Regions from separate parts of the Homo sapiens genome. Here regions 1 and 3 are each linked to region 2. Evidence: fine-mapped expression QTL. A gene starts in region 2. Each other region holds a variant in brackets. All regions are shown on one strand. Distances are from middle to middle. Region 1 has its middle 39 kb from the start of CDK20. Region 2 holds the start of CDK20 (cyclin dependent kinase 20). Region 3 overlaps LOC124902201 (syncytin-A-like).

Region 1 (10,659 bases), 37 kb before region 2:
AAGTGTCAAAATTATTGCAAGAAGAGGGTATAGAGTTAGAGATATTGTGGTAGCCAACATTGGAAAAATCTAATACTCCCTTAACAGGAAACGAGAAAACAGCAATCAACTTTGAAAGCTGGAAAAATAAAGAAAACTAATGATTAATTTTGCAAACCTAAGAAAGATGATTTTTTAAATTTATTTATTTATTTATTTATTTTTTAGACAGAGTCTCAGTCTGTTGCCCAGGCTTGGAGTGCAATGGCACAATCTCAGCTCACTGCAACCTCCACCTCCCAGGTTCAAGCAACTCTCTTGCCTCAGCCTCCCAAGTAGCTGGAATTACAGGTGTGTGCCACCACACCTGGCTAATTTTCGTATTTTTAGTAGAGACGGGGGTTTTGCCATGTTGGCCAGACTGGTCTCGAACTCCTGACATTAGGTAATCTGCACACCTTGGCCTCCCAAAGTGCTGGAATTACAGGTGTGAGACACCACACCTAGCCTAAGAAAGATAATTCTAGGCCAGAAGCGAGTTCAGCTGAGAATCAAGATGTTTAAGAAGCAGTTGGATCCCTCGATCCCATTCCCCACCCCACAGGGCTGGGTAACATTCAGCAGAACGCTGGAGGTCTATTTTCTTGAGAGGACCTTTGGGCTGAGAGTTGACCACAACAGTTGAGCTTAAGGGCACATTCCTCAAAAAGGGACGCAATTACATTGATGCAAACTGATTGCTGACAGCCCCAGCCCTCTTGGCTCACAGAATGCTAAAACCACATAAGAACCCTTCAAACAGGAAATTGGAAGACTACTTTCTGGAGAATCTGAACAGTACATGAGGAAAAAGCAAGTAATATTGATACACGTATTGGGTTCCCTAATAGCATACACACAGACCTCACGGTGAATTGCAAGGTAAACAAGCCACACCTACTTACAAGACTTCCAATAAGTTGTTCAGTTCCATATTTCTAACTGCAAGCCAGGCTGGGTGCAATGGTTCACGCCTGTAATCTCAGCACTTTGAGAGGCCGAGGCAGGCAGATTGCTTGAGCCTAGGTGTTGGAGCCCAGCCTGGGCAACATAGCCAGACCCTGTCTCTACAAAAAAACTCATAACACTAGCCAGGAGTGGTGGCAAATGCCTGTACTCCCAGCTACTTGGGAGGCTGAGGGAGGAGGATCACTTAAGCCCAAGAAACCATGGAGGCTACAATAAGCTTTGGTTGCACCATTGCACTCCAGACTGACCAACAGAGTGAGACCCTATCCCCCAAAAAAGAAAAAACCCTGAGCAGACAACCAAGATTTACCAGACAAAGCCTCTAAAATGGAAGATATGGGCCAAAACAAGCAGAGACAGAAGCAAGTTGGAGGAACAAAACTATGGAAATGTATTATCATGTTCACATATTTAGAATTTCTTTGATGATATTACACATCTATCTATGCCTATTTAGAGTATGCATATGAATATATAACTATGAAAAACAAAGAGGTTGCTGTTAAAAAGAGCATTCAGAACAGAGGAAAAACAAAAGGTGAGTAATTAAAAACTTAGTAGAATAGTTGGAAGAGCAAGTTGGGGAAATCTCTCAGAAGGTGGAGCAAAAGTACAGAGATGAAAATGAAAATGTTAAAATCAGAGATTAAGTTCATGGATTCCAATGTTATGACAGGATTTCCAGAAGAGAGAATGGGAGGAGGAGGAGTGTTGGGAAAGAGGGAAGGAAATTAAATGTTGGACTGGCAAGATTCTTTCGTTTTTGTTCAACTGATAGCAACAACTATTCTTATTAGTGGTATTGGCCAAACTCTCCTAAAGTCATTCTTTTATTTATTTATTTATTTTTTTGAGATGGAGTCTCGCTCCGTCACCCAGGCTGGAGTGCAGTGGTGCAATCTCGGCTCACTGCAACCTCTGCCTCCCGGGTTCAAGGGATGCTTCTGCCTCAGCCTCCTGAGTAGCTGGGATTACAGGCGCATGCCAGCATGCCCAGCTAATTTTTGTATTTTTAGTAGAGATGGGGATTTCACCATGTTGGTCAGGCTGGTCTCGAACTCCTGACCTCGTGATCTGCCCGCCTCGGCCTCCCAAAGTGCTGGGATTACAGGTTTGTTTGTTTGTTTGTTTGTTTTAAGGATTTTTGGCTGTAAGTTTATTCAATGCAAAAGAATCCTCTCCAATTTTACTGAGGTGGCTGACCACGTCCATGACCAAATCCGCCTCTAAACTGGAATTCGGTTGCTGACCCAGCCCCAGCCTCAGCTTTCTTGCCGGCACCAGGTGGCACAGCACTCATCTGTGGGTATCTCTGTCAGCTTCCCCTCTTGCGAGTCTCGTAGGTCGCTCAATCTCCAGACCTTTAGGCCGAGGCCTGCCAGTCTCTGGACGGCTACGGCATAGGGTGGCAGGCACAATCTCTGGGGGCAGATGAAGGTAATCACGGAGATACTGGATACCCTCATTGGTAAGATACCAGTAGAAATGTCTCCAGGCAAACTGTTCCTTCACATAGCCTCGGGACTTGAGAAACTGCATGGCCTTCATGACATGAAGGTTGGGCACATTCTTGTCTGCCAGCTCCGGGTGCTTAGGCATGTGGACATCCTTCTTGGCCACCATGACTCCCTCCTTAAAAAGGAGTTCATAAATGGCAATCCGGTTCTTCTTAGGCATCAACATCTCTGCAGCTGCAAGGGCCGGGCTGGGGCTGGGAAAGGGGATTACAGGTTTGAGCCACCACACCCGGCCCCAAATTCATTCTCAAGTAAAATCGGGGGTAGGGGCTGGGTCATCCAATGCTGTGCAATGAACTCTGCTCTGTTGAGACTCACTACAGAGGTTGGGCATGGTGGCTCACATCTGTAATCTCAGCACTTTGGGAGGCTGAGGCAGGCGGATCACAAAGTTAGGAGTTCGAGACCAACCTGACCAACGTGGTGAAACCCTGTCTCTACTAAAAATACAAAAATTAGCCAGGCGTGGTGGAGCTCGCCTGTAATCCCAGCTACTCAGGAGGCTGAGGCAGGAGAATCGCTTGAACCCGGGAGGCAGAGAATGCAGTAAGCCAAAATTGCACCACTGTACTCCAGCCTGGATGACAGAGTGAGACTTCGTCTAAAAAAAGAAGAATTAGATTGGCATGGTAGGTGCCTGTGGTCCCAGCTATTCAGGAAGTTGAAGTGGGAGGATCACTTGAGCCCAGAAAGTCAAAGCTGCAGTGAGCTGTGATTGCACCACTGCTCTCCAGCCCAGGAAACAGTGAAACCCCGTCTCTAAATACATGAATAAATAAATAAGTTTTTAAAAATAAAAATAAAAATGATTTGCTTTAAAAAAAAATCTACCTGGTATCATTTGGTTTCTAGATCCAGTTGAAGAGACCACTGAGAGCTAAAAGTGGGGCTGGAGGTGATCTCTGGCTCCCCTAACATTCTTGATCAAAAATCACACAGTGCCTTAACCACTCTGTGATGCAGTCAGCTACAGGTTTTTCCCTGCAGGCTTGACCCAAAGCTGGGCCTCAGCATTGATAAAGATACCTAGGTTGTTTGCCAAAAACACAGAAAGAAACTGGCCCTGACCCTCAGCTAAATTCCTTCAACCCTGACATCTATAAACCCTGGTCCCCCTACTGCAGACATACCTAGGGAGAAGATGCTTGTCTCTCGCTGTCCCTCGAGTGGGTTGCTGCAGCCTCTGTATGTAGGTTCCCTAATAAATGCTCTGGATTCATCACCCTGGTGTTACTGGTGTTAGTGCTTTTTTTTTTTTTTTTTTTTTTTTTTTTTTTTTAAGACTTAGTTTCACTCTTGTCCCCAGGCTGGAGTGCAATGGCACGATCTCAGCTCACTGCAACCTCCGCCTCCCAGGTTCAAACTATTCTCCTGTCTCAGCCTCCCAAGTAGCTGGGACTACAGGCGTGCGCCACCATGCCCGGCTAATTTTTCTATTTTTAGTAGAGATGGGGTTTCACCATGTTGGCCAGGCTGGTCTCGAACTCCTGACCTTGTGATCCACCCGCCTCGGCCTCCCAAAGTGCTGGGATTACAGGCATGAGCCACTGCGCCTGGCTAGTGCTTCTTTCTTTGGAATCCCAACCAACCCCATCTTGGGATGGTATGGGGCACTCCCTTCTGGCAATTTCCCTGCCAGCATTTTGAGGCAACTCTAGCTGTGTGCTTGGCGGGACAAAACAAGACCATGTGGAGCACAAGTGTTGGTGTATTTTGCTCTTTCCTTTAGGCCAAGTCCTACCCTAAGTCCTCATGTGTATTAATTAGTCCTCACAATCTCCCCTAATCCTTTTATCCCTTTTCTTTCTTTTCTTTTCTTTTCTTTTTTTTTTTGAGACAGGGTCTTCTCTGTCACCCAGGCTGGAGTACAGTGGTGTGATCACAGCTTACTGTAGTCTCAACCTCTGGGGCTCAAGCAATCCTTTCATCTCAGCCTTCTGAGCAGCCTCGACTGCAGGCATGTGCTACCATACTTGGATAATTTTTGTTGTTGTTGTTGTTTTCTAGAGACAAAGTCTCACTATGCTCCCCAGGCTGATTTTGAACTCCTGGGCTCAAGCAATCCTCCTGCCTCAGCCTCCCAAAGTGCTGGGCCTATCTCCATTTCTTTGAGAGAGAAGGCCAGAGCACAGACTGAGCTCCTCTCTCAGAGCAGCCCTGGGATTCTGGCCCGTCTCAGCCACCATGAACTACCACACTGAACCCGAGAAGGGCTGCTTCCTCCTCTTACAGACTAGCAGGTGTGGGAGGAGAAGGGCAGGGAGGGTGTTCGTGTTCACTTGTCCTGTGCTATCCAGGACAGCAGCCCTGGTCCACACACAATGATTGTGCACCTGAACATGGCGAGGCCGAATTGAGTTGTGCTGTGAGTAGACGACAGGACACACACCAGATTTTGGAGATTTACCATGGAAAACAGAATGTGACCTATCTCAGTGATTTTTATATGCATTACATGTGAAAATAACATTTTTGACATATTGGGTAAAATGAAATGTATTATTAAAATCAATTTCACCTGGTTCTTTTTAGTTGAATGTTATTAGTGTAAACGTAATGTTACATATGTGGCTGACATTATATTTCTCCTGAGCAGCACGGCTCCAGGAGGGTGGACACTGAAACTGCTCTCAGCCCGCATGGTTGTGCGGTAGAGCTGTGCTGCCAACTCAGGCCTGGGGACTGGTGTCATCCCTATGTTTCCATGGAAACAGGTATTCCTAAGAGAAACACCAACCCTCCTCCACCTAGGGACAGATGTCTATTTTCTTTTTTCTTTTTTAGTAGAGATGGTGGCAGGGAGGGTGGGGGTCTCGCTATGTTGCCCAGGCTGGTCTCGAACTCCTGACTGCAAGGCAAACCTCCCGCCTTGGCTTCCCAAAGTGCTAAGATTACAGGATTGAGTCAATGAGCCCAGCTGGGAACAGATGTTCATGTCCTCCTCTCATCTTTTCCCCAAATTGCCCTTGGAAACTCTTGACAAGTCTTGGCCTAAGTTCTCTACCTCTTCCCCACCTATCTAGAAAAGGCTACCAGAGCCCAGAACACCTGGAGAGATGATAGCTTTCAAGGTGCAGAGATAAAGAGTTCCCAGAAAGGAGACACATTTTGGGGATTGTGAATTGTCTCCTTAGTGGAGAGAAGGACAAGCTTCCTGCAGCTTTCACTCTCTCCTTTGTCCTGGAACCTGTCCCTGCCTAAGGAACTCTTTGGCAAAAGACTTTGCTTTCTGGGTCTCACTTCCTGCTTGATGAAATAAGCTGCTCAGCATAGATTATCCTTAAATGCCATTGAGATGCAAACAAATGTCACTGGTGCCCTTTGAGCACCGCCCGAATATTTTAACACCTCCAGACAGGAGGACTGCACTTGTCTCCTGTTTGTTG[T/C]GACTTTTCTCCAGCTTCTTTTCTGTAGGTTGTTAGCAGTCAGAAAACTGTTACAATTACCATGGAGCTGGGTTTGCAGGGGTGAAGGCTAGGAGATGGAAAATCACTTCCCTAAAGGGGACCTTACCCACAAGTGGCAAAGCCAACATTTTAACCTGAACTGCAGGTTCCAGGTGAGGGCCGGCACCCCTGCATCACCTGAAAAAGGAGGTCACTGGATCACGAGTTCTAAGAAATCATTCAACTCTGACATGTGGGGGCCTATTTATTTTTATCTCACTAGAAAACAAAGTCAGAGACTGGGTCTGAAGGTAAGGATGCAGACATCTGAGACAAAATCTCTCTCCTTCCTGTCTTAACTTTGTTTTATTTAGTGTGTGAGGTTTGTTTTTGTTTTTGTTTGTTTTTGAGATGGGGTCTCACTCTGTGGCCAAGGCTGGAGTACAGTGGCATGATCTCAGCTCACTGCAACATCTGCCTCCGAAGCTCAAGCAATCTTCCCACCTCAGCCGCCTGAGTAGCTGGGACTATAGGCCTGCGCCACCACACCCAGCTAATTTTTGTATTTTTAGTACAGACAGGGTTTCACCATGTTGCCCAGGCTGGTCTCGAACTCCTAGATTTAAGAGATCCACTTGCCTCAGCCTCCCAAAGTGCTGGGATTACAGGCATGAGCTACCACACCCTGCCCTGTTTTATTATGTATTATTGTTTATTTTTTTGTAGAGAAGGCGGGTTGCACTATGTTGCCCAGCCTCCTCTCGAGCTCCTGGCCTCAAGAGATCCTCCTGCCTTGGCCTTGTTTTATTAGTTTCACTAGGAAAATTACAGAGGAAGATAAAGCATACAAATAAGGTTAAAACCAACAATAATCCCACAATTTTTTAAAAAGATATAAAATTAAAGTGAAGCATCTGCCCTCGGCTCACCACAGCCCTCAGTACCTGCCCTTCCAAGAGAAAACCCCTCCCCTCCAATAGGTAACTATTCATATTGTCCTCCCAGAATTTTCTTTTTTTCTTTTTCTTTTTCTTTTTTTTGAGATGGCGTTTTGCTCTTGTTGCCCAGGTTGGAGTGCAATGGCATGGTCTCAGCTCACTGCAACCTCCACCTCCCGGGTTCAAGTGATTCTCCTGCCTCAGTCTCCCAAGTAGCTGGGATTACAGGCACCCACCACCATGCCCCTCTAATTTTTGTATGTTTAGTAGAGACATGTTGTCCGGGCTGGTCTCAAACTCCTGACCTCAGGTTATCTGCCTGCCTCGACCTCCCAAAGTGCTGGGATTACAGATGTGAGCCACTGCACCTGGCCCAGAATTTTCTTATATTAATACACACAGTATATTATTTATTTTACAAAAAGGTAAGCATGCTAAATCTATTAGACTGCAAAATATGTTTTCTCATCTCTTGGATATCCTTTCCTGCCAGCACATTGGCAGTATTTAGTGGGTGCACAGAATTCAGTTTCCTGGATTTTCTCTATTTTAACTCTTCCTCCCTCTGCTGGTAGACATTTAAGTTTTTCTCCAGTATTTTGGAGCTGCAGTGAACAGGGCAGCTCTCTACAGGGGCAGATTCCCAAAGAGAGACCTAGTGCCCTGGGAAGAGAAGGGGGTTTCATCTACCAAGAAGCCAGGCAATTAGGAATGAGTTTGCCATCAAATCTGTCAGAAAGAAAGGACTGGGCAACAAGAGCAAAACTCCGTCTCAAAAAAAAAAAAAAAGAATTTAAGTTGCTAGAGAATGTGGAAAGTTTCAAAGGCAGAACTTGTAGCCCTGACATAGTAAAACCTTAAAGCAGCTTTTAGAAAGTCTTGGGCAAAGGCCTTGAAGCCCAACTGGCTCTACACTGATTCTCGCTCCCAGCCTTGGGCAAGCAGATCCACCTGCCAACTCTCAGTACTGCCTTTTCATAAAACCTCAGATAAGCACAGTGCTCTCAAACAGCATAAAAAGCACTAGCCACAAAGGGAAACAATGACTCCATTAAAAACATTTGACTCTATTAAGGCCAAGAACTTCTGTTCATTAAAAATCTGGATTTAAGAGTGAAAAGGTGGGGCCAGGCTCGGTGGCTCATGCCTGTAATCCCGGCATTTTGGGAGGCCGAGGCAGGTGGATCACAAGGTCAGGAGTTCAAGACCAGCCTGGCCAAGATGGTGAAACCTCGTATCTACTAAAAATACAAACAATTAGCCAGGCGTGGTGGTGGGCGCCTGTAGTCCCAGCTACTCGGGAGGCTGAGGCAGGAAAATGGCATGAACCCAGGAGGCAGAGCTTGTAGTGAGCTGAGATTGCGCCACTGCACTCCAGCCTGGGCGACAGAGTGACACTCCATCTCAAAAAAAAAAAAAAAAGAGTGGAAAGGTCAGTCATAATGGGAAAAGACTTTTATCATCCATAAATCCAACCAAGAACTCTGCATAATTGTGGCCCTATATTAATTTTAGGAATTGGTATCACTATCACATAAAAGAAAATAATATTTTTGGTGGTAAGGGATGGAGCCTTGCTCTGTTGCCCAGGCTGGAGAGCAATGGCATGATCTTAGCTCACTGCAACCTCCACCTCCTGGGTTCAAGCAATTCTCCCACCTCAGCCTCCCAAGTAGCTGGGATTACAGTTGTGTGCCACCATGCCTGGCTAATTTTTGTATCTTTAGTAGAGATGAAGTTTCACCATGTTGCCCAGGCTAGTCTTGAACTCCTGACCTCAAGTGATCCTCCTGCCTTGGCTTCCCAAAGTGCTGGGATTACAGGTGTGAGCCACTGCGCCTGAACTGATTGTGTCCTCTAATGCACAAAGTTTTAAACTTGTTTGTTTGTTTGTTTTCTAACCACTAGACCACCAGGGAAAAAGTTTTCCATTTTTATTGACTTCAATTTATCTATTTTTTCTTATGTTGCCCATGCTTTTGGTATCACATTCAAGAAATCATTGTCAAATCTGATATAAGGAAGACTTCTTTTAAGATTCTTATAGTTTTTTTTTTTTTTTTCGAGACGGAGTCTCACTCTGTTACCCAGGCTGGAGTGCAGTGGCACAATCCTGGCTCACTGCAAGCTCCGCCTCCTGTGTTCATACCATTCTCCTGCCTCAGCCTCCCGAGTAGCTGGGACTACAGGTGCCTGCCACCACACCCAGCTAATTTTTTTGTATTTTTATTAGAGATGAGGTTTCACCGTGTTAGCCAGGGTGGTCTTGATCTCCTGACCTCGTGATCTGCCCGCCTCGGCCTCCCAAAATGCTGGGACCACAGGCGTGAGCCACTGTGCCCAGCCTAAGATTCTTACAGTTTTAGCTTTTATAGTTAGGTCTTTGATCCATTTTGAGTTAATTTTTGCATATGGCACTGGGTAAGGGTCCAGCTTCATTCTGTTGCATGTGGAGACTCAATCTCCCTACAACATTTATTATTTTTATTTTTTCAGAGATGAGGCCTCACTATATTGTCCAGGCTGATCTTGACCTCCTGGGCTCAAGCAATCCTCCTGCCTCAGCCTCCCAAAGTGCTGGGATTACAGGTATGAGTCACCATATCCAGCCTTTCAACACTATTTTTTGAAAAAACTATTCTTTCCCTGTAAATGGTCTTGGTATCATTGTTAAAAAAAATCATTTGAAAGCCTGGCGGGGTGGCTCACGTCTGTAATCCCAGCACTTTGGGAGGCCAAGGCGGGTGGATTGCCTGAGGTCAGGAGTTTGAGACCAGCCTGGTTAACATGGTGACACCCTGTCTTTACTAAAAATACAGCAATTAGCTGGGTGTGGTGGTGTGTGCTTGTAGTTTCGGCTACTCGGGAGGCTGAGGCAGGAGAATCACTTAAACCTGGGAGATGGAAGTTGCAGTGGGCCAAGATCATACCACTGCACTCCTGCTTGGGTGACAGAGCAAGACTCCATCTCCAAAAAAAAATAAAAATCATTTGACCATATATATAAAGGTTTATTTCTGGGCTTTCTGTTCTATTCCATTAGTCTATGGGGCTGTTTCTATGCCAGTACCACACTGTTTTGATTACCGTAGCTTTGCAGTAAGTTTTCAAATCCAGATGTATGAGACCTCCAACCTTATTGTTTTTGAGATTGTTTTGGTTACTTAAAGTTCAAGAAAATAACATTTTGACAGACACAATGTGATGCACTGACAGCAAATTATACCATTATTTGTAAAATGCTTGGTCAGGCACTTATACAGAGAACTACAGTAGTTTCCCCCCTCCTTATCCATGGGGGACACATTCCAAGACCCCCAAGACCCCCCAGTGGATGTCTGAAACCTCAGATAGTAACAAACCCTATATATATTATACTCTGGGTTTTTTTCTATGCATACATAACTATGATAAAGTTTATTTATTTATGTATTTTTTTTGAGACAGAGTCTTGCTCTGTCACCCAGGCTGGAGTGCAGTAGTGCGATCTTGGCTACTGCAACCTCTGCCTTCCAGGTTCAAGCAATTCTCCTGCCTCAGCCTCCTGAGTAGCTGGGATTACAGGTGCGTGCCACCACACTTGGCTAATTTTCGTATTTTTAGTAGAGACAGGGTTTTACCATGTTGGCCAGGCTGGTCTTGAACTCCTGAGCTCAGGTGATCTGGCCACCTTGGCCTCCCAAAGTGCTGGGATTACAGGCATGAGCCACCACGCTCGGCCTTATGATAAAGTTCAATTTATAAATTAGGCACTGTAAGAGATTAATAACAACAATAATAAAATAGAACAATTATAACAATATACTGCAATAAAAGTTATGTAAATGTGGT
Region 2 (10,659 bases):
CTGGTTTATTTCACTTAACATACTATCCTCCAGTTCCATCTATGTTGCAGTGAATGACAGGATTTCATTCTCTCTGAGGCTGAATAATATTCCATTATATATATATACCACATTAAAAAATTCATTCATCTATTGTTGGACACCTGGGTTGATTCCATATCTTGGCTGTTATGAATAGTGCTGTGCTGCAATAAACATGGGGATGAAGATGTCTCCTCAACATACTGATTTCCTTTCCTTTGGATAAATATCCAGTAGTGACAGCACTGGATCTTATGGTAGTTCTAGTTGCAGTTTTGTGATGAATGTCCATACTGTTCTCCACAGTGGCTGTACTAATTTACGTTTTCATCAACAGCATATTAGAGTTTTCTTTTCTCCGCATCCTTGCCAGGATTTGTTATTTTAGCCATCCTAACTGGGATGAGATTATACCTTATTGTAGTTTTGATTTGCATTTCTGACAATTAGCATCATTGAGTACTTTTTCATATGTTTCTTGGCCATTTGTATGTCGTCTTTTGAGAAATGTCTTATCTAGATCATTTGCCCATTCTTAAACTGAATTGTCGTTTTTGTTTTGTTTTGACTGTTGAGATGTTTGAGTTCCTTGTGTATTCTGGATATTAATCCCCTGTTGGATGAATGGCTTGCAGATATTTTCTCAGATTCTGCAGGTTGTCTGTTCACTGTGTTATTTCTTTTGCTGTGCATAAGCTTTTTAGTTTGATATAATCCCATGTGTTTATTTTTGCCTTTGTGGCTGTGTTTTTGAGGTCTTACTCATAAAGTCTTTTCCCAGACCAATATCCTGAAGCACTTCCCCTATGTTTTCTACTAGTAGTTTTATAGTTTTTTGTGTTACTTTTAGGTCTTTGATCCATTTTGGGTTGATTTTTGTATAAGGTGAGAGGTGGAGGTCTAATTTCATTTTTCTGCATATGGATATCCAATTTTCCCAGCACTATTTGTTGAAGACATTGTCTTTTCCTCAGTAAGTGTTCTTGGTGCCTTTGTCAACAATCAGTTTGCTATATATATGTGGATTAATTTCTGGGTTCTCTATTCTGTTCCATTGGCCCACGTGTCTGTTTTAAGGTCAGTACTATGCAGTTTGTGTTACTACAACTTTGTAGTAGATTTTGAAGTCAGGTAGTGTGATGCCTTCAGTTTCGTTCTTTTTGCATAGGATTGCTTTGGCTATTCAGAATCTTTTGTGTCTCCACATTGTTTTTAAATCTTTTTTTCTATTTCTGTGAAGAATGTCATTGGCATTTTGATAGGGATTGCATTGAATCTGTAGATTGCTTTGGGTAGTATGGTCATTTTTTTTTTTTTTTTTTTTTTTTTTTTTGAGACAGAGTCTCACTCTGTCACCCAGGCTGGAGTGCAATGGTGCAATCTCGGCTCACTGCAACCTCTGCCTCCCTGGTTCAAGCTATTCTCCTGCCTCAGCCTCCCGAGTAGCTGGGATTAGAGCTGCCTGCCACCGTGCCCGGCTATTTTCTGTATTTTTAGTAGAGACAGGGTTTCGCATGTTGGCCAGGCTGGTCTCAAACTCCTGACCTCAGATGATCCACCTGCTTCGGCCTCCCAAAGTGCTGGGATTACAGGTGTGAGCCACCATGCCCGGCACAGTATGGTCATTTTAACAATATTAATTCTTGTACTCCATGAGCATGGGATGTCTTTCCATTTATTTGTATACTCTTCCATTTCTTTTATCACTGTTTTTTAGTTTCCTTGTGGAGGTCTTTCACCTCCCTGGTTGGATTTATACCTAGGTATTTTATTATTTTTTATTTTTTGTAGCTATTGTAAATGTGATTGCCTTTCTTTTTCAGCTAGTTTATTGTTCAAATATAGGAACACTACTGATACTTATATGTTGATTTTGTATCCTAAAACTTAACTAAATGTATCAGTTCTAAGAGTTTTTTGGTAGAACCTTTAGGTTTTTCCATATATAAGATCATGCCATCTGCAAATAGGGACAATTTGACTTTCTGCTTTCCAATTTTGATACCCTTTCTTTCTCTTGCCTAATTACCCTGGCTATTATTACATTTGTTGCCTATGTTTTTAGTGTTACATGAAGAAGTCACTGTCAGGCCAGGTGCGGTGGCTCATGCCTGTAATCCCAGCACGTTGGGAGGCCGAGGCAGGCAAATCATGAGGTCAAGAGATCGAGACCATCCTGGCCAACATGGTGAAACCCTGTCTCTACTAAAAATACAAAAATTAGTTGGGCGTGGTGGCATGCGCCTGTAGTCCCAGGTACTTGGGAGGCTGATACAGGAGAATTGCTTGAATCTGGGAGGCAGAGGTTGCAGTGAGCCGAGATCATGCCATTGTACTCCAGCCTGGCAACAGAGTGAGACTGTGTCTTAAAAAAAAAAAAAGAAGTCACTGTCAAACCCAATATTATGAAGCTTTTCCCTTATGTCCTTATGTTCTCCTCTAAGAGTTTTATAGTTTTAGCTCTTTCATTTAGGTTTTCTTTTTTTTTTTTTTTTTTGAAACAGAGCCTCCCTCTGTTGCCCACGCTGGAGTTCAGTGGCGTGACCTCAGCTCACTGCAACCTCCACCTCCTGGTTTCAAGTGATTCTCCTGCCTCAGCCTCCTGAGTAGCTGGGATTACAGGCATATGCCCCAATGCCCAGCTCATTTTTTTGTATTTTCAGTAGAGACAGGGTTTCACCATGTTGGCCAGGCTGGTCTCGAACTCCTGACCTCAAGTGATCCGCGGGCCTTGGCCTCAAGTGATCCTGCCTCAGCCTCCCAAAGTGCTGAGATTACAGGTGTAAGCCAGTGCACCTGGTGTAAATTTGGGTCTTTAATCCATTTTGAGTTAGTTTTTCCATATGATATAAGGGGTCAATTTTTTCATTTTCTTGCATGTAGAGCTCTAGCTTTCTCACCATCATTAGTTAAAGAGACTGTCCTTTCCCCATTGAATGGTCTTCATAATTTTTTTAAAAATCATTTGATCAGGTATGTGAAGATTTACTTCTAGGCTCTCCATTCTATTCCATTGGGCTGTCTGCCTTTATGTCAGTACCACACTTTTTTGATTACTATAGCTTGTGGTAAGCTTTAAAATCTGGACGAGTAAGACCTCCTCCTTTTTTAAGATTGGTTTTGGCTATTTAGGGCCTCTTGAGAATCCACATTGGTTTCTGAATAATTTTTTTTTCTAATTCTGCAAAAAAGAAATCCCATGGAGATTCCATTAAACCTTTAAATTGTTTTCAGTAGTATTGACATATTCAAAATATTAAGTCCTTCAGTCCATGAACACAAGATGTCTATTTATTTGTGTCTTTCTTTCAGCAACATTTTTTAGTTTTCAACCTATGAGTCTTTTGCTTCCTTATTTACTCCTAAGTATTTTATTCTTTTTGATATTATTGTAAATGGAATTATTTTCTTAATTTCTGTTTCAGAGTGCTCATTGTTAGTATATAGAAACTATTGATTTTTGCATATTGATTTTGAATCTTGCTACTCTGTTTATCTTGTTTATTAGTTTTAACAGTTTTTTGTGGCATATTTAGGATTTTCTACATATATTATCATGTTGTCTCTAGACAGAGATAGTTTTTTCTTTCCAATTTGGATGCTATTTATTTATTTACCTACATTCATTTATTTATTTATTAGACGGAGTCTCACTCTGTCACCCAGGCTGGAGTGCAGTGGTGCGATCTCGGCTCACTGCAACCTCCGCCTCCCGGGTTCAAGCGATTCTCTTGCCTCAGCCTCCCAAGTAGCTGGGACTACAGGTGCGTGCCACCATGCCCGGCTAATTTTTGTATTTTCAGTAGAAATGGGGTTTCGCCATGTTGGCCAGGCTGGTCTTGAACTCCTGACCTCAGGTAATCCACCTGCCTCAGCCTCCCAAAGTGCTGGGATTACAGGCATGAGCCGCTGTGCCCGGCCTATTTATGTATTTATTTATTTATTTTTCTAATTGCTTTGGCTAGGACTTCCAGTATTATATAAAATAAAAGCGGCAAAAGTGAGGATCCTTGACTTGTTCTTGATCTTAGAGGGAAAGCTTTCAATCTTTCACCATTGAATGTAATGTTAACTGTGGGCTTTTCCTGCATGGCCTGTATTATGTTGAGGTGGTTTTCTTGTATTTATAGTTTGTTGAGTGCTTTCTTCATTAAAGAGTGTTGAATTTTGTCAAATGCTTTTTCTGCATCAATTGAGATTATCGTCTCCTTTTACCATTTCTTGAAGAGAATAGTGAAATAACTCCCATTACCATAATCATACTAGTCTTTGTGCTGTGATGTTATGCACAAAATGGTGCTTCATAAAGCATTTGATAATTGTACGACAGTCTTATGTGTGGGAAGATAAGTAAAATTTAGTCATGTAAAAGTCATTATGCAGTTATTGATTTGGCAAAAAAAAAAAAAAAAAGAAAAAAAAGAAAAAAGTCACTAGTCCAATAAAAAGGCATTTGCTTTGAAACTTTTCTTGAACCTCAAACTAGCTAGTAAAACTTGACAAAGTGGAGCCGTGTGTGGTGGCTCAGGCCTGTAAGTCCAGTACTCTGGGAGGCCAAAGTGGGAGGATCCCTCAAGCCCAGGATCAGCCTGGGCAACATAGAGAGACCCTGCCTCTACAGGCGTGGTGGTACGTGCCTGTGGAAAAAAGTGCCAGTTTTTCCAAGGGGTTGTATGAACTTGCACTCTTAGCAGCAGTGTATGAGAGTTCAAGTTGCTCTTTGCTAGCATTTGGTATTATCTATCTTTTTCATTTAAACTATTCTAGTGATTACAATAACACTCTGTTGTGGTTTTAATATGAAATTCCCTTCTAGTCAGGGAAGTTAAACACACATATTGCAAAATTTATTGGCTGTTCAGGAATCACCTTTTGCGAAGTGTCTATTCCAGGTTTTTCTAATTTTTTTTTTGTAAGATTGTCTGCTTCTTCTTCAGTGTTATAATAAAAGTTCTCTATAAATTCTACATGTGAGTCCTTTGTCAGATATATGTATTACAGTTCTCTTTTGCCTTTCTGTGGCTTTCTTGTTCACTCTCTAATGGTATCTTTTTTTTTTTTTTTTTAATTTGAGATGGAGTCTCACTCTGTCACCCAGGCTTGAGTGCAGTGGCGTGATCTTGGTTCACGGCAACCTCCACCTCCTGGATTCAAACAACTCTCCTGCCTCAGCCTCCTGAGTAGCTGGGATGACAGGTGCATGCCACCATGCCTGGCTAATTTTTGTATTTTTAGCAGAGACAGGGTTTCACCATGTTGGCCGGGCTGGTCACGAACTCCTGACCTCAACTGATTCTCCCATGTTGGCCTCCTAAAGCGTTGGGATTACAGGTGTGAGCCACTGTGCCTGGTCTCTAATGGTATCTTTTGATGAATAGATATTCTTAGCATTGATGAAGGCCAATTTCTCATTTTTGTTTTTCTTTTAGTGTATTCTGTAACCTAAGGATCTTGAATTAATCCAAAGCCATTAAGATATAATTTTCTTCTAAAAGCTTCATTATTTACCTTTTATATTTAGATTGCAGTCCATCTGGAATCAATTTTGTGAATGGTGTGAGACTGGGGTCAATATACATTATTTTCCCCTTATGACTTCTCAAATGACCCAGCACTATTTGTGAAGACCATCCTTTCCCTACTGTATCTTTTTTTTTTTGTTTGTTTTTTTTGAGACCAAGTTTTGCTCTGTCGCCCAGGGTGGAGTGCCTTGGCACAATCTCGGCTCACTGCAACCTCCGCCTCCTCCATTCAAACGATTCTCCCGCGTCGGCCTCCTGAGTAGCTGGGACTACAGGCCGAGTGCCACCATGCCCGGCTAATTTTTGTATTTTTCGTACAGGCAGGGAGTTTCGCCATGTTGGCCAGGCTGGTCTCAAACTCCTGATCTCAAGTGATCCGTAGGACTCGGCCTCCCAAAGTGCTGGGATTACAGGCCTGAGCCACCATGCCCAGCCTATCTTCGCCAGTTTTAATGCTAAAAACTATTCCATTCTATGGCACTCCCTTAACTTAACTTAGCCATTTTTCCATCTGGGTATTTGGGTTGTTTTCAGATCTCTGCTATCATCAAACAGGAGGAATACTTTGTATGGACATCAAGTCATTCTTCTGCAATTATTAACCCAGAAGTGAAATTTCTAAGCTAGAAAATATTTGCTTTTTTGGAAAATTAATAAATTATATTCAAAACTCAAATAATGTAAAGAGACCCAGTGAAAAGTCTGCCTCCTATTCTGTCCCCCTGTCCTCCCAGTCCCTCTTCCACCAGGTAACCACACTCAGGAAATCTTGTGTATCTTTCCAGATATCTTGTAATGGATGTACAAGCATTATTTATATTCTTTTCTCCTTTTGTTTACACAGCCAGTGGTACTCTATGCATTCTGTCCTGCATCTTGCCTTTTTCATTTAACAACCTATTTTAGAAATCTTCCCATTGCTGTACATAAAAAGATTTAATACCTCATTTGAAGGAGGCACCACAATGATGGACATCTGTGTTGTTTCCAATAGTTTGCCGTTGAAACAACGTTGCAATGGAATAACTTTGTACATGTCATTTCACATGTGTAAAAGGTGTCTATTGGGGAAATTGCTAGAAGTGGCTTTGCTGAGTCTGAGGGTCTGTGCATTTGTGATTTGATCAACATCGTCAAATTATACTGCCACCAGCAATGTATGAAAGTGCTTGTTTTCCCGTAGCTTGGTCAATGAACTATTAGACCTGAGATCTTTAGCCATCCAATATGTGAAAAACTGTAACTTTAGTTTGCATTTGTTTATTGTATGTGAAGTTGAGCATCCTTTCAGAAGTTTAAGGCCTACTCTGTCCTGTCTGGGTCAGAGTATGCCCTTTTATTTTATTTTTAGTTTTAGTTTTTGAGACAGAGTCTCGCTCTGTCACCCAGGCTGGAGTACGGTGGCGCAATCTCGGCTCACTGTAACCTCTGCCTCCCGGGTTCAAGCGATTCTTCTGCCTCAGCCTCCTGAGTAGCTGGGATTACAGGAGCACGCCACCACGCCCGGCTAATTTTTTTTGTATTTTCAATAGAGACGGGGTTTCACCATGTTGGTCAGGCTGGTCTCGAACTCCTGACCTGATGATCCGCCCGCCTCAGCCTCCCAAAGCGCTGGGATTACAGGCGTGAGCCACCGTGCCCGGCCCTCAGAGTATGCCCTTTTAAAAATCTGTGGGTACACGTAGCCAACTGACATTTTAAGACAAGAGGACCCACAGACCCTCTTTCCACAACGCAGCCCGGGACCTGTCTGTCTGCATCAATAGTGCCTGGCTTTCGGAGCTAGAAAACAGCACCTGCGCGTGGTCGAAGCCTGAACCTCTACTTACAGGTGCGGAGCTTCCGGCTTGCCAGGGGAAGGAGCCCGCCCCTCCCGGCTGCGTGCACCAGCGCAGCTAGTCACGTGACGCCGGGGGCGGGGGCAGATAGGAGGTGCCTGCTGTCATCGTTCCGTGGGCCCTGCTGCGGGCACGCTCTCGGCGCATGCGTTTTTTATGCGGGATTAAGCTTGCTGCTGCGTGACAGCGGAGGGCTAGGAAAAGGCGCAGTGGGGCCCGGAGCTGTCACCCCTGACTCGACGCAGCTTCCGTTCTCCTGGTGACGTCGCCTACAGGAACCGCCCCAGTGGTCAGCTGCCGCGCTGTTGCTAGGCAACAGCGTGCGAGCTCAGATCAGCGTGGGGTGGAGGAGAAGTGGAGTTTGGAAGTTCAGGGGCACAGGGGCACAGGCCCACGACTGCAGCGGGATGGACCAGTACTGCATCCTGGGCCGCATCGGGGAGGGCGCCCACGGCATCGTCTTCAAGGCCAAGCACGTGGAGGTGAGGCTGGACCGCGGCCGGCAGCCTGGCGGGGGTGTGCCCCCGCCACCCTCCGGCTAACGCTCTAAACTGTTTCGGTTCCCTTTTTACATCCAGTACAGTTTTTAAAACCTACTCATATTCTAAACCTACTTTGGGCCGTTGCGCTTCCCTCCGCACAGCTGGCTTGGTCCCCTACCCCAGCGGCTGGGTCCCAGGCTAGTCCTAGACCCCCGAGGAGGGCCTCTGGCCGAGCCGGGGGCGCGTGTCTCTCTCTCAACCACCTTCCCCTCACCCACCTTCATCTCTCTTTCCCAGCCGAGGGTGGGCTGGCAGTGTCTGCCTTCTATCCTGCAGACTGGCGAGATAGTTGCCCTCAAGAAGGTGGCCCTAAGGCGGTTGGAGGACGGCTTCCCTAACCAGGCCCTGCGGGAGATTAAGGCTCTGCAGGAGATGGAGGACAATCAGTATGTGAGTAGGGGAGGGGGGGCATGGTATTCTCACCCTCAGTCGCTCGTTCCCACTTCTTTGTGCCTTCATTTTCCCAGCTACGCCTTCACCAGCTTTCAGGGATTTCCTCCCGCTGTCACTCACACACACTGCTCATTCATCTGCCTCCTTACCCCCTTTTGCCCTTTTTTGTCCACTTGTTCACCTTTATTTACCTATTTCTTTCATTTCTCACACATTCACTCTCATTTGCCTACTTATTTCTTAATGTATTCATTCATTCACCGACTTTTTTTCTCAAAACATGTAGTGATTTATAATGTAACTAGCACCTATTGAGCTCCCGATGTGTTCTGCAGGCATTATATACATTGTCATTTTGAGACCTCTTTACTACTGTACAAGGCAGGTTTCCAGATCTCTGTTTCTCAGGTGAGAGGAGGAGGTTATGTCACCAGCTCTTGGGCCCTCCGTTAGTCAGTAGAGGGTTTGGCCCAGGTTTGATTGAGAGTCCATTCTTCCCTTGGGACCTCCCATAGGCTCTACCCTGTGTTGGGCACTGGTGACACAGAGAAACCAGCTCCAGCCCAGCTCCTGAGGACTTAAGTGTGCTAACAAGAGACAGAGGCAACAGGGCCCACCTAGTGTGGTTCGTGCTGTGATAGGGTACCGGGAGGGGCTGCTGGAACACGAAGAGGGGCATCTTTCACCCCTAGTGTCATTACTCTTTTGGTGCTCTCTCTCACCCATGTCGAAATAGGGAATGTATTTGACTCCCTGGAGAGTTAACAGGGTTGGGTCTCTGTGATCTGGAGATATGCATGATATATTGGATGACAAAAGCATGTTATAAAATTTTGTGTCATCTGGGTTTTGTTTGGAAATATTATATATGTGAATGTGTATTTGTGTGTGCCATATCTGTTGTAAAGTCTGGTAGAATACACTCTAAGATTGACTGTAGGATTTTTCTTTTGTTCTTTTTCTGTTGGATTTTATGTCTTACCTGAATGTGTGCATGTGTTTTGATCTGTTAAATGGTTGTGTACTACCTGAAAAATCCGAAAACAGCAATCAGGCCATTTTGATTTTTTGAGGAAGATAAAAGGGCTTCCAGACAGCCATGTGTGGGATAGGTGGAGAGATCCATAAGGAAGCTGGTGATATGGTCCCTACATCCAGTTGGTCAGCAATTCTGAAGGTTCTAACTTTAAAACATACTCTAGATTTGCTCCTTGCCCAAGTCATCATCACCACTCATCAGAATGACAGTGGCAGCCTCCCCACTGCTCTCCATAGCCACAGTCCGGAGGGCTTTGTCAAAAGTGTAAGTTAAGTCATCGGCTCCCCTGCGTAAAAAGCCCTGGTGGCTTCTCTTCACACTTAGAGCACTATCACCATGTGCCCACCTCCAGCTGGCCTCTCCCTTTTCTCTCATTCAACACAACTTCTTAGGCATCTCTCCAGTGACCAGCACCTATCTAGGGTCCAGGAGCACAGAACAAGGCAGACACATCCTTCCCTTAAACAATCTCATGTACTCACATCCCTCTAGCCTCCTTCTGTGCTGGCGTTAGGGCCTTGCACTTGCTTTTCTTCCTGCTCAGAGCTTTATCCCAGATCCCCACAAACTGGGTCCTCATCTAGCCCCACCCCACCTAAATAAAGAAGTATCCTTTTCTCCACTCACAGAATCACACTATCCTCTTCTAGTTCTGTTGATTTTTTTTCTTTTTTTGATACAGGGTCTCACTCTGTCACCCAGGCTGGAGTGTAGAAGTGCGATTTTGTCTCCCTGTAGTCTCAACCTCCTGGGCTCAGGTGATCCTCCCACCTCAGCTTCCCAAGTAGCTAGGACTACAGGCACGTGTCACCATGCCTGGCTAGTTTTTTGTATTTTTTGTAGAGACAAGGTTTCACCATGTTGCCCAGGCTGGTCTCAAACACCTGGGTTCAAGCCATCCGCCCACCTTGGCCTCTCAAAGTACTGGGATTACGGGCATGAGACGTCATGCCCAGCCCCCTTGTATTTTGGTTCCTGTACTTACAGAATCTGAATATATCCCTTTTATTCATTTATTTGTTAAACTGTTTGTCCTTTGTGCTGTGAGTTCATTAAGAGTCCTGTCTCTCAGCTCACTCTCTGTGTAGCCTGGCTCCTCTGACAGTACTGGCCTCAGTGTTTGTGATGTGTCTGTAGCTGTCCCAGCACTGGGAAAGGTGGGATTCCTGGTGTCCTTTCCTTGGTGCTGGGATTCGGTGGTTCTAGAGGAAACAGGAGGAGACCTGTCCATCTCATGTGTGACCATCCAGATGATTTTCAGGCGGGTAGGCTGGGTGGGCGGACCAGATGGTGCCACTAAATGA
Region 3 (10,659 bases), 56 kb before region 2:
TCTGCTCCCTTGGTTACCCACTCTGCACCCATTCTTCCCACTGAAACTGCACTTCCCACCACTGTAACTCACATCCCCCTTCCCTTCCTTATTTGGAAAAGTATTCACAAATAGCCAATCGGGTCAACTTAGAATGAGCGGTCCAACCCCAGCCCCTGGGGGAGTGACACAGAGGTAGGGACTGTGTTAGGGATAAAAACCTTTTCCTTCCTTTGTTCAGTGTGCTCCTGTGATCATGATTGATGCAGGCAGCACCCTTCTGCAGAAGTAAATTGCCTTGCTGAGAAAACTTTTGTCTGAGTGCTGGTTTCACTTTGTAGCACTGAGCATTTGTTTCCAACAGTGAATATTCTACTTGTTTTAAAAAATGTCTACTTTGAGGTAACTGTGAGGTTTGACAGATACAATTTTAAAGCATAATAACATTTGAAAGTTAATTCCAAGTTTATTCTTTTTAGAAGCTGGAACACAGAAACATAGGAACTGGAGTTAGAGAGCATCTCATTAATAGCTAACCCTCCTCTAATAACTCATGAATTAATTAATAATTACAACCTTAAAACCTCATCAGTAACTAATTACTCATTGGTAATTCATTTTTTAACTCACTAGTCACCTACGACTTCCCCCAAGTGTCCACAGAAGGGAGGAAGGTAGGAGGGATGCGCTGGCCCCGCCGGCCTCTGCTGGCACATCCCATCACATCCATCATCTGTCTCACAGATTCCCTGGCCTGTCCCCCAACAGGATCCAACACCACCTTCCCCAGCCCCTGCCCAGAGCTTCCTCTCCAAACATAGCTCACTGGATCAAGCTGGGCTGGGGCTCTTCTCCCCTTTTCTCTTTGATTGATGTAATTTAAGGGCATGGAAGGAAATCAAATTGCACATTGTAAACTTTTGCATAGAAAAGTTTATGATGAAAATTTCCTTTGCCCTGCTCATCCCCACCTGGAATGCAGCTTCCCAGTGAAAGGACCCACAACCCACCAGGAGGCAAGAAAGATTGCTTTAGACCAGCAGTCCCCAACCTTTTTGGCGCCAGGGACCGGGTTTGTGGAAGACAATTTTTAACCCGGGGTTGGGTTGGGGGATGGTTTCAGGATGAAACTGCTCCACCTCAGATCATCAGGCATTAGTTACATTCTCATAAGGAGCAAGCAACCTAGATCCCTCACATGTGCAGTTCACGATAGGGTTTGTGCTCCTATGAGAATCTAGTGCCGCTGCTGATCTGACAGGTAATGCTGGCTCACCCACCCACCATTCACCTCCTGCTGTGTGGCCCCGTTCCTAATAGGCCACAGACGAGCTCCAGTCCATGGTCCGGGAGTTGGAGACCCCTGCTTTAGACTGAAGACATCTGAGATACAGCAGACACAGCTAGATACTTTTTTTGTTTGTTTGTTTTTTTCCGAGACGGAGTCTCTCTCTATCACCCAGGCTGGCGTGCAGTGGTGCAATCTCAGCTCACTGCAACCTCCACCTCCTGGATTCAAGCGATTCTCCTGCCTCAGCCTCCCAAGTAGCTGGGATTACAGGTGCACACCACCACACCTTGCTAATTTTTGTATTTTTAGTAGAGACAGGGTTTCACCATGTTGGCCAGATTGGTCTCAAACTCCTGACCTCAAGTGATCCGCCCGCCTCGGCCTCCCAAAGTGCTGGGATTACAGGGGTGAGCCACTGCACTCAGCCTAGAGGCCTTTTTTGAGCTTCCCATATATGATTAAAGGCAGAGATTTCTGATCATGAAGCTGCCATACATCCCCTCTCAAGGTGCCTGTTAACACCAAGAGTAAACCCTGTGTAAGCAAGCCCTCTGAAAACCTTCCATACTTCCCTCCAAAGTCCTAACCACCCTATTTTTACGATGCTGATGTATGAACTCTCACCCCTGGCGGCTCCTGGAGCCACTCCTTTTGGAGTGCTCCTAAATACAGTGAAAGCGAACTTTTCTGCTGTTATTCTTTCTATTGTCAATTAAATTGCCATCCTCTCCACCTCCCCACCACTCAGATCTATTGGTAAAGAAAAGCTTTCCTAGGCCGGGCACAGTGGCTCACACCTGTAATCTCAACACTTTGGGAGGCCAAGGTGGGCAGATCACCTGAGGTCGGAAGTTCGAGACCAGACTGACCAACATGGAGAAATCCCATCTCTACTAAAAATATAAAGTTGGCTGGGCGTGGCGCATGCCTGTAATCCCAGCTACTCGGGAGGCTGAGGCAGGGGAATCGCTTGAACCTGGGAGGCAGAGGTTGCAGTGAGCCGAGATCACGCCATTGCCCTCCAGCCTGGGCAACAAGAGCGAAACTCCAACTCAAAAAAAAAAAAAAAAGAAAGAAAAAGTTTTCTGTCAAAGCTGGGAACACATGTTAATACTTTTCTGGTGGTTAACTCTATGATTCTTCTTTAAAATCCTATAGTTTCCCTTTTATTACTATTCTATAAATCCTCAGTTCCTTTTGATTCTTTTATTGCTTATCTTTACACTTTCAAATAATAATCTCAAAACTCCATTTCTTGTTTTGTCAACTGAACTTGCCCTTGGACTATGTGAGAGCATCAGCACCTGCTGCTCGGTCGCCAGCGCAGCGGCCCCTCCTAGCTCTGGCCAGCAGCACTCCAATTTTGACAGCACTGAGACTTGCCCACTTGCATTCTATTCTGCAACTATATTGGATTTGTCCATGTTTTTGTCTAACTGCTGTTTCTACAAGATAAAAATCAATATGCATCAAATGCATTATATTGACTACTATGTAAAAAGTGGTCATTATAGCCTGCTGTGGTGGCTCACGCCTATAATCCCAGCACTTTCAGAGGCCAAGGTGGGTGGATCACCTGAAGTCAGGAGTTCGAGACCAGTCTGGCCGACATGGTGAAACCCTGTCTCTACTAAAAATACAAAAATTAGGCAGCCGGGCGATGTGGCTCATGTCTGTAATCCCAGCACTTTGGGAGGCCTAGGCGGGCAGATCACAAGGTCAGGAAATCGAGACCATCCTGGCTAACATGGTGAAACCATGTCTCTACTAAAAATACAAAAATTTAGCTGGGCATGGTGGCGGGTGCCTGTAGTCCCAGCTACTCAGGAGGCTGAGGCAGGAGAATGGCGTGAACCTGGGAGACAGAGCTTGCAGTGAGCCAAGATGGCGCCACTGCACTCCAGCCTGGGTGACAGAGCGAGACTCCGTCTCAAAAAATATATATATATATACAAAAATTAGCCGGAGCCTATAAACTTGGGAGGCTGAGGCAGGAGAATTGCTTGAACCTGGGAGGAGGAAGTTACAGTGAGCTGAGATCGCACCACTGCACTCCAGCCTGGGTGAAAGAGCAAAACTCCATTTCAAAAAAAAAAAAAGGGGGTCGTTATAAACCCAAATGAAGTAGTTTCCCGATGCAGATGTTTTTGAGTGTCTGCGTCACCATAGTGACTTACTTTCCCCTATTTTGCCAACAGTCCTGAAATCTTGGTTGTATGGATCTTGAAGTGATCTTTCATGAGAACAACCCTGATCAACATTAAGGCCACACAGACAATCATCACACTGGGGTCACTGTCCAAACCAAACATAACTGTCTCAATCCCAATCTGCAAAATAGAAATGTATTAAAAACCTAAATCATGATGTGCTACATTTTCTTCTCCTTAAGCATAAAATGCACTGTTTCCTGTTATATTGAATATTTGATCAGATTCTGCTTAAAAAAAAGAAAATTTAAAAAGCTTTCTCAAGTCTAACAGAGCTTATAAAAATAAAAAGTAAAAATAAAAAGCCTTCATCAGACATTAGGGGCTGAGGTTTTCTGTTTGTAATTAAATGTGCCATTAACAAGAATAGAGAATACTTGAAAAAAAATTTTTTTTTTTTGAGACAGGGTCTCACTCTGTCGCCCAGCTGAAGTGCAGTGGTGTGATCTCGGCTCACTGCAGCCTCAACCTCCTGGGTTCAAGCCATCCTCCCACCTTAGCCTCCTGAGTAGCTGGGACTACAGAAGTGCACCACCATGCCTGGCTAATTTTTGTATTTTTTGTAGAGACGACATTTCACCATGTTGACCAAGCTGGTCTCAAACTCCTCAGCTCAATCTACCTGCTTCAGCCTCCCAAAGTGCTGGGATTATAGGCGTGAGCCACCATATCCAGCCAAGAATAGAGAATACTTAATCTCCATTTCTCTGTATAACATGCTGGCAAAATACTACATAATGCTCTTAGGCCCTTGGCCAACGAATACCTCAGTCAATCATCCAATTAACCTTGGTGGTTCGTTATTACCTGTCATAAACAATACAATACACCATTTCCTCTACCTCCCACATTTAAGGTTCTTTAAACATCAACAGTTCCATGTAGCTGAGTCCAACCCAGAATCAATGCAAGAGCATGTTCTTCAACCATTTTTAAGCATGGAGTTTTCCTTTCCTTTGAGTTCATAGTCCTCAGTAACTAGAGCTACTTAATATGTACATATGCAGGCAGGAAACCTGATGCAGAAGGGTCTTATAAATGCACTTATGAACCTGGGCAAGTTGCTGTGTCAAAATATGCACAGTCTAACCTCTGGCTGAGTTAGCTACAACCAATAAACAGTAGATCCATGCAATTTTTATTTGGGAGTTATCTTTATAAAATCACAGACAGAACTAAGAAGTCACGAATGTGAAAAGGCACAGGAAATGTAAATGAGTGAACAGAGCAAATCAGACAAGAAGGATGGAGGTAAGAGGGTAACAGGGAAACAGGGAGGTAAAGAGGGTAACAGGGAAATGAATGTGAGGATCAGACACTTTCTTCATCATTGAAATGGTCAGAACAGGGCTTTGGACCTAGGCAAAGCCTCCATGCCGGTGGTTCCCAAATTTCAGCATGAATCAGAATCCCCTGGAGGCAGAGCTGCCAGATACAATACAGAACCCCAGGCCGGGCGCGGTGACTCATGCCTGTAATCCCAGCACTCTGGGAGGCCGAGGTGGGTGGATCACGAGGTCAGGAGTTCAAGACTAGCCTGGCCAAGATAGTGAAACCCTGTCTCTACTAAAAATACAAAAATTAGCC[G/A]GACGTGGTGGCATGTGCCTGTAATCCCCGCTATTCGGGAGGCTGAGGCAGGAGAATCACTTGAACCTGGGAGGTGGAGGTTGCAGTGAGCCAAGATCACGCCACTGCACTTCAGCCTAGGCGAAAGAGAGAGACTCTGTCTAAAAAACAAACAAACAAACAAACAAAACAGTACCCCAGCTAAAGGTGAATTTCAGTTAAACAACAAATCATTTTAGTATTAAACATGTCCCATGCAATAATTGAGACATACTCATATTAAAAAATGATGTCACTTATCTAAAATGAAATGTAACTGTGTGTCTTGCATTTTTGCTCTACCTACACAGAGGTTCAAATACTGATTGCTGTGCCCACACCCAGAGTTCTTGATTCAGTGGATCTGGGATGGGGCCCAAGAATCTGCATTTTTTGAGACAGGATCTCAGCTCCGTTGCCCAGGTTGGAGTGCAGTGGCACAATCACGGCTCACTGCAGCCTCGATCTCCTGGGCTCAAGTGATCCTCCCGCCTCAGCCTCCCAAAATGTTGGGATTATAAGCATGGTCCATGGCACCTGGCCAAGAATCTGCATTTCTGATACTTTTCCAGCTGACGGCGATGCTGCTGTGTGAGGATGCCCTTTGAGAATCCCTGCTACAAAGCCCCTGCCAGTGGAGTGGCATTGCTGTGTGGTGGCCTTGCACTGCGGATTGCCCACCGGAGGGATGCTGTGTGAGCACTGGCTGTGTCACCCTGCCACTGTGTCTCTGCTTCCCTGGAAACATGCGTTTCTCCACTTTCAGGCAGAAGCACCAACTGCTCCTGTGAATTAATATGCTCATTTAATGCTCATTACATTTAAATTTTGTCATTGAAAGGGCTCATTTTCCCATACTGGACCGTGGCCCTCTCCCTGCTCACTTCTTTAGAATAAAGAAGAGCATGAGGCTGGTGAAGGGGACTGATGCATTATTGCACTGGCTCTGTCTGTGGTGACAGGCTCACAAAAATACTGTCACCATGGTATTTCTCAGCATTTGCTACATAGGAGGTTTTTCATACTTCAGGAAACATATTTACCATTTTAAAACCAAAGACATCAGGGTCCCATCAACATCTGTGATTTAGCTGTTACTAAACATTGTAAATCTATCAGTGTCTTGTTCCTTGGAAGTAGAACACCTACCACTGGACTCCCTTTACTCTAATTAACCAAAGGCACCCCACATGAGTGGTTAATAACTGGTTGGGCTTTGTCCCCTTCAGAGGGGACACACATGGTATAGTTGCCAAGTCCTGGACTCACTTTCTGACAAAAGCTTTTCCAAGATGCTCCTGGCTGGAAGCCGTGTGTGTCAGTTTGCTATGGCAGATAATACTCTGTCCTCTGGACACCCGAAATTCGTGTGTTGAAGTCCCAACCACCAGCGTCTCAGAATGTGACTGTATTTGGAGGCAGGGTCTTTAAAGAGATAACAGGCCAGGCGTGGTGGCTCCCACCTGTAATTGCAACACTTTGGGAGGCCAAGGCGGGCAGATCACCTGAGGTCAGGAGTTCGAAACCAGCCTGGCCAACATGGAGAAACCCTGCCTGTACTAAAACTACAAAAATTATCTGGGTGTGGTGGCGCATGCCTGTAGTCCCAGCTACTTAGGAGGCTGAGGCAGGAGAATTGCTTAAACCCGGGAGGGAGAGGTTGCAGTGAGCCACTACACTCCAGCCTGGGTGACACAGTGAGACTCTGTCTCAAAATAAATACATAAATTAATTAATTAATTAAAATAAAAAATAAAGAGGTAACTAAGGTTAACTGAGGTCCTTAAGGTGGAACCTAATCCAATATGACTGGTGTTCCTTATCAGAAGAGGAGATGAGGACACAGGGCAAGGACGCCCATCTGCAAAGCTAAGGAGAGAGGACTCAGGAAAGAACAACACCGCAGATGCCTTGATCTCAGACTTCCGGGCTCCAGAATTGTGGGAAAACAAATTTCTGTTGTTTAAGCTGTCCAGTCTGTGATACAGAAAGCCCTCACTTAACATTGTCAGTAAGTTCTTGGAAACTAACTTTAAGTGAAATGATGTATAACAAAATCAATTTTCTAATCAATAGGCTAATTGATATAAACAAGAGTTAAGTTCCTACAGCACGCTTCTCCCTTTGCAGGGCGCACTCACACACATGCCCACCCTCACTCACCTTGGGACCACGTAGACACATCAGTTCACCTAATGGGCACAATCATGGGATCAAGGAGGAAACGAGAGCACCCAGAAAAAACCCACACAGACATGGGGAGAACATGCAGACAGACTCCAACACAGGTAGTGGCCCCAGGTGAGGATTATTCTTTTCTCATCGACCTTATAATAAAGACCTGTTGAGGCCAGGGGAGGTGGCTCATGGATATAATCCTAGCACTTTGGGAGGCTGAGGCAGTAGGATCGCTTCAGCACAGGAGTTTGAGACCAGACTGGGCAACACAGGAAGACTCCAGTCTCTACAAAAAATATTTTTTAAAAATTAGCCAGAAATAGTGGCAGGGGCCTGTTGTCCCAGCTGCTTGGGAGGCTGAGACGGAGGAAGATCACTTGAGCCATGATTGTGCCACTGCACTTCAGTCTGGGCAACAGAGCAAGACCCTGTCTCAAAATAAATAAAAACAAAATGACCTTATTCTAGGACCTGCTGTACTTTGTTACAATAGCCCAAGCAAACTGAGACACCATGTAAATGCCAGTTTTCCTTTACAATAAAGACAATAGTGCACGTACCCCAGATGTGACAACTGTAGGATTCCATTTGAAAGAGCAGGCAGGCTGGGTATGGTGGCTCATGCCTGTAATCCCAGCACTTTGGGAGGCCGAGGTGGGCAGATCATGAGGTCAGGAGTTCAAGACCAGCCTGGCCAACATGGTGAAACCCCATCTCTATTAAAAATACAAAAATTAGCTGGGCGTGGTGGCGGGCACCTGTAGTCTCAGCTACTCAGTAGGCTGAGGCAGGAGAATAGCTGGAATCTGGGAGGCAGAGGTTGCAGTGAGCCGAGATGGTGCCACTGCACTCCAGCCTGGGTGACAGAGCAACTCTGCTCAAAGAAAAAAACGAAAGAAAGAAAGAGCAGGCAATTTTCACCTTACAGTAACCTATGATTGAGGATCTCAGTTGCCCCTCTCAATAGGTTTTCCTGTTTTATCCTTCAGTTCTTCTCTGCCCCTGGCTGGAGACCAGACATAAGCACAAATCTGAAGGTTGAGCCCTGGGGTGGAGGACAGGAACCATTTTCTCACTACCACCACCCTCTGTGAGCTACCACTTGCTTCTGCCAAGAATCATCCTTACAATGAGCTCCTTCCTTACTCATTATTTTTCTTCTTCCTTGCAACACGCAGAATTTATCTCTCCTCATCTTGATGTTGATGAAAGGCAATATTCTTTGCTAATTTAAAGTGTGATGAAACATACAGAAGAAAACAAGATTTCTGATAAACACTTTTTGCTAATTAAGTATTTGGAAATCTGCTTGTACCAAAATAATATGACATTCCTCCCTGTGCCCTCCCTGTGCCTTTTATTTCCTCTAATAGAATTGTTTTCCTCCACACAGAGGTTCTCTTTTTTTTTTTTTTTTTCAGATGGAGTCTCACTCTGTTGCCAGGCTGGAGTGCAGTGGTGCTATCTCGGCTCACTGCAACCTCCGCCTCCTGGGTTCAAGCGATTCTCTTGCCTCAGCCTCCCGAGTAGCTGGGATTACAGGCACCCGCCACCGTGCCCAGCTAATTTTTTATTTTTAGTAGAGACAGTGTTTCACCATGTTGGCCGGGATGGTCCCGATCTCTTGATCTCGTGATCTGCCTGCCTCGGCCTCCCAAAGTGCTGGGATTCCAGGCAAGAGCCACTGCTTCCGGCCAACAGAGGTGCATTCTAGATCTTTAATTTCTCCACCTCACTTGGAAGATTGCTAGAAATCACAAATAAAGTTTGTAATGTAGTTATATAGCTTTCACTGAACATTTTAAATACTTGAACAAAAAATTCATGACGATTACACATAACCAAGCCCATCCCAAACTTTTTGAAGACTTCATATGTCAATCCCCCGATAGTTAATAAATACTGTATTTTTTCATGACTCCCACTCTTAATCATCATACTGACTCATACCACTCAAAACTGCAGTTTAATTATATTAGTTTTCTCTAATATAAAATTAGTTACATATTTAATTAACTTCCTTTCTCCCAAAATAGCAACCATCCTCTTTGATTAACCTGGCTGAGTCATGCAAAACCTTATGCTTATCTTGCTGTCAATTACAAGCATATTTTAGTTTTAAGCAGAAATAGCTTACATTGTACCATGCAAAAATTACGGTGTTAGGGCCGAGCGCTGTGGTTCATGCCTGTAATCCCAGCACTTTGGGAGGCCGAGGTGGGTGGATCACCTGAGGTAAGGAGTTCAAGACCAGCCTGGTCAACATGGTGAAACCCTGACTCTACTAAAATACAAAAATTAGCCGGGCATGATGGCGGGTGCCTGTATTCCCAGCTACTTGAGAGGCTGAGACGGGAGAATCTCTTGAACCTGGGAGATGTTGGTTGCGGCGAGCTGAGATCACGCCACCGCACTCCAGCCTGGGCAGCTGAGTGAGACTCCATCTCAAAAAAAAAAAAGAAAAAGAAAATTACGGAGTTAGGAGGAAGGATGGCATATGGTTAGGAAACTAATTTCACAAGTAAATGGATCCTCTATTGACTTTGACAGACAAAATGTAAGAACAAGAATGCAAAAGTAAGACCTTTTTTTTTTTTTTGAGATGGAGTTTCGCTCTTGTTGCCCAGGCTGGAGTGCAATGGCAAGATCTCGGCTCACTGCAACCTCCTCCTCCTGGGTTCAAGTGATTCTCCTGCCTCAGCCTCCTGAGTAGCTGGGATTACAAGGCATGTGCCACCACACCGGCTAATTTTGTATTTTTAGTAGAGACTGGTCTCAAACTCCCACCGTCAGGTGATCCACCCGCTTTGGCCTCCCAAAGTGCTGGAATTACAGGCATGAGCCACTGTGCTTGGCAGTAAGACTCTTATATTCCTAGACTTTTTTTGTATGTATGAATCACTTTGGTACCAAAAGGTCCTTTATTTGATAAAGACAGTTCATGACTGCTTTATTCATTACCAGTTTATTTCATTTAAAATTTTATTACTTTTGGAATCTGGATGTCACAGACAAGGTTGGGTGATAACAATTTAAGGTTAGAGTCCTCCTGCAAGGACAAGGATGTCAATAAGAGGTGAGGAGGGTTCCAGGCACATTGCTGCCCACATAAAAGAGCAAGCTAGGACCCAGGCGCGGTGGCTCACACCTGTAATCCCAGCACTTTGGGAGGCCGAGGCAGGTGGACCATGAGGTCAGGAGATCGAGACCATCCTGGCTAACACAGTGAAACCCCATCTCTACAACAAAATACAAAAAAAAAAAACAAATGAGCCAGGCGTGGTGGTGGGCACCTGTAGTCCCAGCTACTCGAGAGGCTGAGGCAGGAGAATCTGTTGAACCTGGGAGGCAGAGGTTGCACTGAGCCGAGACTGTGCCACTGCACTCCGGCCTGGG

What was found. PIP is the estimated chance that this variant, and not a neighbour inherited with it, causes the effect.
Region 1: its variant is the best candidate, but not a certain one, in a credible set for the expression of CDK20 in transverse colon (CEDAR, PIP 0.58).
Region 3: its variant is the best candidate, but not a certain one, in a credible set for the expression of CDK20 in pancreas (GTEx, PIP 0.82).

What each region holds. Positions count from the first base shown.
Region 1 is chr9:88,008,311-88,018,969 of GRCh38, reverse strand. It overlaps the pseudogene RPS10P3. Among named protein-coding and RNA genes, the nearest start is that of CDK20, 39 kb to the right of the region's middle. The variant T/C (reference allele first, on the strand shown) is at 5,891.
Region 2 is chr9:87,971,576-87,982,234 of GRCh38, reverse strand. It overlaps CDK20 (cyclin dependent kinase 20), which reads left to right and starts at 7,702. Exons shown (of 8, transcript NM_001039803.3): 1 at 7,702-7,863; 2 at 8,200-8,313. The coding sequence starts at 7,789. It overlaps LOC105376131 (a long non-coding RNA gene), which reads right to left and starts at 7,600. Exons shown (of 3, transcript XR_930088.2): 1 at 7,373-7,600.
Region 3 is chr9:88,027,098-88,037,756 of GRCh38, reverse strand. It overlaps LOC124902201 (syncytin-A-like), which reads left to right. Exons shown (of 7, transcript XM_047424307.1): 7 at 1-289. Among named protein-coding and RNA genes, the nearest start is that of LINC03026, 45 kb to the left of the region's middle. The variant G/A (reference allele first, on the strand shown) is at 5,068.